2 separate regions of the Homo sapiens genome follow, and region 1 is linked to region 2. The links come from fine-mapping of genetic effects on plasma protein levels. A gene starts in region 2. The other region holds a variant in brackets. All regions are shown on one strand. Distances are between the middles of the regions.

The links. A credible set is the group of variants that fine-mapping cannot tell apart. PIP is the chance, under the fine-mapping model, that this variant and not a neighbour inherited with it causes the effect. Protein levels are from the aptamer-based SomaScan assay of Sun 2018.
Region 1: its variant is the best candidate, but not a certain one, in a credible set for the plasma level of the NEO1 protein (Sun 2018, PIP 0.68).

The regions. Positions count from the first base shown.
Region 1 is chr15:73,020,337-73,023,238 of GRCh38, forward strand. No RefSeq gene overlaps it. Among named protein-coding and RNA genes, the nearest start is that of NEO1, 31 kb to the right of the region's middle. The variant C/CA (reference allele first, on the strand shown) is at 1,414.
Region 2 is chr15:73,051,188-73,054,089 of GRCh38, forward strand. It overlaps NEO1 (neogenin 1), which reads left to right and starts at 1,276. Exons shown (of 29, transcript NM_002499.4): 1 at 1,276-1,618. The coding sequence starts at 1,489. RefSeq lists silencers at 396-445, 506-575, 666-985, 1,216-1,595.

The DNA of each region.
Region 1 (2,902 bases), 31 kb before region 2:
CCACAAGGAGAGAGGGAAACAAAAAGATTTTTATCACTGAGCCAAATTTTCTGACCCACAGTTCAAAGACGTACCTCCATCTCCAGCTAAGGCAGACTGTGCAGAATTTTTGAGTCGGTGGAAAGATTTTGCTTCTCTTCCCTCCATCCTTCAGGACCATAATCAAATGTTAAAGCCCTAACCCTCCATGTGACTATATTAAAGATGGAGACTTTGCAGAGGTGGTGCAGAGGTGGTTCAGGTTAAGCCCTCTCTCCACCATGTAAAGACACAGAGAGAAGGCAACTGTCTACAGGCCAGGAAGAGAGGCCGCACCAGAAACAGACCCGGCTGGACCTTGATCTGGGACTTTTAGACTCCACAACTGTGAGAAATACATTTCCATTGTTTAAGCCAGTCTATGGTCATTTGTTATGGTGACCCAAGCAGACCAAGACAGCTTTTCTCCCTTCTGCTTTTCCTTTTATCACAAGAAGGGAAGAATATTACAGGCAAAATTCTGAACAAAGCTGTCATCAACAAAGAGCCTCCATCAATTTTAATCCCAAAGTGGCTGCTGTGTAAGCAACAAGGAGAGTGATAGGGCAGGAGAGAGAAAGAGATACATCACCTTTCCTAGGTGACACTCAACTCCCTGTCACAAAGGCAAAGCTCAGCTGGTCAGAACTTAAAATTACCAATGACGATGATGATGGAAAAAATTGGTGTTTAGAGTTTCTTTCCCCTTTTTAAGACACTACTAATGGAACGACCTGGAGTTTCTTCTTGAGTCCTTTAAATGCATCTGGAAGTGAACTCACAAAATTTCCCCATGCTTTTCCCCACTGTAGAGGTCTCTCAAGGCTCTTGTTGGGAATCGCATGAGGTAATGGATGCAAAAGTGTTTTGTAAAATACAAAGCATTCCATGCATGCCAGCTATTATTGGAAGGAAGCAGAAGGATGAATTTAAATCCCAAGATCCCCTGAAAAATGTGTGAAAGGTGCCCCCATTTGGATTGTCATCTTTACCGTACATTTACAGACCATTTAGCAATTTCTCCAAGTGCTTACTCCCGTTCCCTCGGTGACATCCTTGCCCTGTGCTGGGGAGGGCAGAGAAAGGCTGACTCTCCCAAGCCTGGCCCAGTGGACAGCAGCAGGGCCTGCGGAGGAAGGGGCTTGGTTGCTAGGAGACCAGCAAAAGTGGGCAGCCAGTTCCCAAGCAGGTTAGAATCCGGCGAGGAAGGATTTTAAAAGCCTATTTCCGTCTGCTTCTGCTAGAATTGAAATTCTCTTCAGGGTCCAGCCACCAGTGATACAATCTGCTTACATTACTGGTATTGAGAGGCCCTTGAAAGGGATCTATCTGGCCATTTCTTGTGTCTCCCTCCCACAGTGCCTAGAAAAGGCAGGCACTTAAAACAAAATGAAA[C/CA]AAAAAAAAAAAAAAAAAAGAGGAGTTGATGGAGTCTGTAGCAGAAGCAGAGAAGTGACAGCAAGAATTAACCCAAGCACATCTGATCATGACCCTTAGACCCCCAAAGAGGAAATAATTGTGCTCAATCTATGTTAAATTACAGTGCACCTTCCATAGCTTCTGAGTACATCAAGGCAGGTGGCTGGATAGAACTGAAAGTATTTTTTCAAGCCCTCAAGAGGTGTGTCAAGCGGGTCTTTTCCTCTGGAGTTTATCTTCACAGACGCAACCTGACATGTGCTTCTGGGCTAATTGGATGAGGTCGACACTGCATTTAAGTTTTCCCTTTGAGGATTATGAAAATGTGATTTTCAAATAAGAATTATTTGTTTGGTTTTGTTTTCCCAAAGCATGCAGTACACCCAAGAAATCAAATGCTTTTTCGAACCCCCTGAGCCCTCAGCAAGATATACTGACACTTACAACTGCCTAGAACACAGTATTGAACTCAGGAGGAATCAGCTGGAAAAACAGTGGAATAATAGGTGCATTTAGAGTCATTTATGGGCTGAGGCTTGACAGTCTTCATGCCTTGTTACTGCTGCAGCATTGAGAGCAAAGCGGCGGTGCTGATTCATCAGGAAGAAAGAAGCTCGCAGGTCATAGGAAAATAAACTATCTCGGAAGAGGCTCCAGTGTCCTCAGCAGACATGCTTTATTTGGTTAAAGCATAATGTGTAATGGCAAAATGGAAGAACAATTTCAGTATTTACAGGGAAACCCTGGCTTCTAGCCTGCTTTTATAGGCAGTTGGAGGTGGGGGTGGGGGGACTCCAAGGGGATGCAGTAATTGGTTGAGAAAAGAACAATTCAGGAAAATAGAGGACACACATAGGCTAGTGCCTGTCTCATGAAGATGAAGATGAAGGCAGACCTGAAAACACAGAAAAATGTGTCTTGAGAAAAACTAAAACCCCTTCATTGGCAAATGGTAGGGCGTGTGAGGACCACAATGGTGAGCTGATGCAGGGAATTGCAGCAAGGTGGGGAGATGAAAGACCATGATCCTGTGCATGCAAATGAGAAATAACTGAATGTCACATATGCCTCTGCATCTAATTCACTGAGTGAAATGGGCAAGCTCTAAAGCTGTTTCCCCCTAATAAGTGCTTTGCACATGGTGACTATTTTGGTGAGTGGAACGATCGTGAACTTTGGGGTCACACAGACCTGGGTTTAAATCCTGGCTCTGCCAGGGACCTTGGGCAGTGTCGGAGAAGACATTTAATTTTCTGAGTCTCCGTTTTCTCATCTGTAACACAAGGTGGTAATGATGCCTGTGATGGCTTCCTCCAGTGCAGAAGTTCTGTGAAACAGCCCAGCCCCACCTGCCTTCTTACCCTCTGTGTTCCCACTCTAGATTCAGATACCTGGGAGTGAGGGTGGTCTGAGTGGGGACTGTGATTGAAGGGGTAGGGCCCCATTATTCATAGCTTTTCCTGGAATC
Region 2 (2,902 bases):
TCGGTTATCGACTACACAGAAGAGTGAATAAAACCCAACGCCTATCAACCACCAAACGTGACTCTGCTTGCATAATCATACAAATAAATTTTCTTTAAAAATTTTTCATGGGTGCAGTATATAAAATGATCAATAGTCTCATCAGCAGTGGAACTACAAACTGCTTTCTCCTAACTTTGTGTAGCCTGGGTGCTGCCTCACGATTACTAAGTGGTTTAAAATCATATCCCACTTGCTCCTTGGTTTATCAGCGAAAGACGTGATTCCCAGGTAGGAAAACGCCAAGTGTCCCGCAAAGGTACAGGTAAAACGTAGCAGTTACTGCGAGAAGACTGGCCCCGGGGAGTCCCAGGGCTCGGTCGGGGCCCCCGCACGAGCTGAGGAAGTGGACAGCGGGCACCTTTGTCTGTGCCTAGTTCCCTGGACCCGGGCCGAGCGATGCGGGTGGGGGCGCGGTTCGGGCGGGTCCCGGCGCTGCCCGGGGGAAGCGCGCGGCGACGGCGGCCCGGCTTGGGAGCCGGAGGTCAGCGGCTGCGCGGCCGGCCCCCTCCCACGGGAGCCGCGCCAGGGCCCAGCAAGAGTCGGGCGGGATCGCTATTGTTTTTGGCGAGCACATAAATCCCCGGGCCGACCCACTGCGCACCCAGGTTTCCTCCCGGAGGCCTTTCGGTTTCCTCTGAGGCCCTATATAGAGGCTCCAGGCCCGGACTGTGCAGAGGTGCGCGCCCACGCCGGCCTCCCGGACCAGCCTGAGCTCGGAGCGCCTCTCGCCCTCAGGTCTCTGCAGCCAGAGGCATCTGGGGAGGTGAGGGGGGAATTTGTCCCCGAGGCGAGGAGGAGGAGGCGGGGGCGCGCGGAGCCGAGGGGCTGCGGCGAGCGGGCGGGAGGAGCAGGAGGATCCGCTTCTCCGGGGTTTCCCTGACGCCAGCAGCAGCGCCCGGCGCGCGCGCCCCGCACCCGTCAGCGGCTCCGGGGAGAAGGGGGAGGGGAGCGGGCCCGCCACGGCCCGAGAGGCGGCAGCCGGGATTGGAGCGGGGGCGGGCCGCGCGCGGAGCCGAGGGGGTGCGGGCGAGGCGCGCGCGTGCGCGTGTGCGCGCCCGGGACTCCCGCCCCCCGCCCCCGCCCCCGCCCCCGCCGTCCGCGGTCTCCGCCCCCCTCGCGCTGGTGTGTGGAGCCGGAGTCGGCGGCGGGTGGCGGCGCCTGGAACCTGGAGACCGACCCACCGCCCCCCCCCCCCCGCCCCGGAATGTACTGACTCCCCTTCTTCGCTCTCCTCCCCTCCCCGCCCCCTTGCAGGAGGGAGGCGCCCTGGAGTCTCCCCTCCAGCGAGAGGGGCTGCGCGGGCCGGGCCGGGCCGGGCTGGGCTGGAGCAGCGGCGGCCGCGGGAGCCGAGCTTGCAGCGAGGGACCGGCTGAGGCGCGCGGGAGGGAAGGAGGCAAGGGCTCCGCGGCGCTGTCGCCGCCGCTGCCGCTCACTCTCGGGGAAGAGATGGCGGCGGAGCGGGGAGCCCGGCGACTCCTCAGCACCCCCTCCTTCTGGCTCTACTGCCTGCTGCTGCTCGGGCGCCGGGCGCCGGGCGCCGCGGCCGCCAGGAGCGGCTCCGCGCCGCAGTCCCCAGGTAAGCGGCGGGCGCGGGCCCGGGGGTTCGCGGGGGCGCGGCACCGGCTCAGGCGGCCGCGGCTGCGGTGTTTTTGTTTAGGATCCAGGAGGAAACGTGCAGGAACTTCTCTGCCTCGGCTCCGGTTGCCGAAGAGAAAGGGGATCGCGCGTGGTGGGGAGGAGAAGGGCGAGAGGGGGCGCCACCGGGGAAGGGGCGGCTGCCGGGGGGCAGGTCGGGGGCGCAGGGGTCTAGTTCCCAGCTTTGTACCTGGAGGCAGGTTCACCCCTCGCCTCTCTCCCCTCCCCCAGGCTCATCCCACTTGTAAGAGTGGGACATTCTTGTGCTCACACTAGCACCAGTAGAGGCCACTACACACCTCATTAAATAAACAATCAGACGGCCAATTCATTAATTTTCAGGAAAGGAAAGGGGAGGGGGCTTGAGCTCCTGGTTCCCTGGCCAGGGATTTCCCAGCTTCCGAAGTCTCGAGGAAGAGCTGGCTAGTCTCGAGGGACTCCTCGCGCGGGGATTGGAGCCCGAGTCTGCGGAAGAGCGGGGGTGTCAGAGGGGCACAATTGCCCGCTCACAACCCCTGGTGTTGATTTAACGATGAGGACGCCTTGGAGAGCGGCTCGGAGTGATCGTATCTGTTAGTGTTTCCGTTATGAAATGCCTCTTCTTTCCTGGGGATTACAACTATATTTACAGCCTATTAACCACTCTTAACCAAGGGAATTGTCTAAGCATCAGATTTTAGGTACTTGTACAATGTTTTCAGATGGCATTGTATAAACATTGAACCTCAAAAGCCATTTTCAGTTCTTTTTTGGAATATTATAGATTACTGAAACCACCTGCATTCCTATTAAGGGGACCAACGAACAAAAATGCCAAGCCTTCCGGGAAGGACCTTACGGTATTGTTGAGCAGGATACACTCAGCAGTTGAAAGGCAAATTAGCATGTAATCTGTTAAAATTATTTGACCAAGGTGGTGTACCATAAAACTTGACAAAACTTTCACTCGTGTGAGATATGATATTTTTACATTTGAAAGCAGTCTTACCGCTGAACCAGTACTTGTTTTTCCCTGATTTATATGAAATAATATTTAAAATCACACTGCAAGGTAACTTGACTGATAAACTTTTCATTTCCTTGCAGAGTGTGTATGTAGCTCATGGCTTTTGCCAATGTTAAAGAACAGCTTTAAACGTAAAGTACCACTCGGTATTCTCTAAACAGCTACGTAAACAATAGTGTTTTAATGTCAAATTAAACATCACTTATGTCATGATGTACC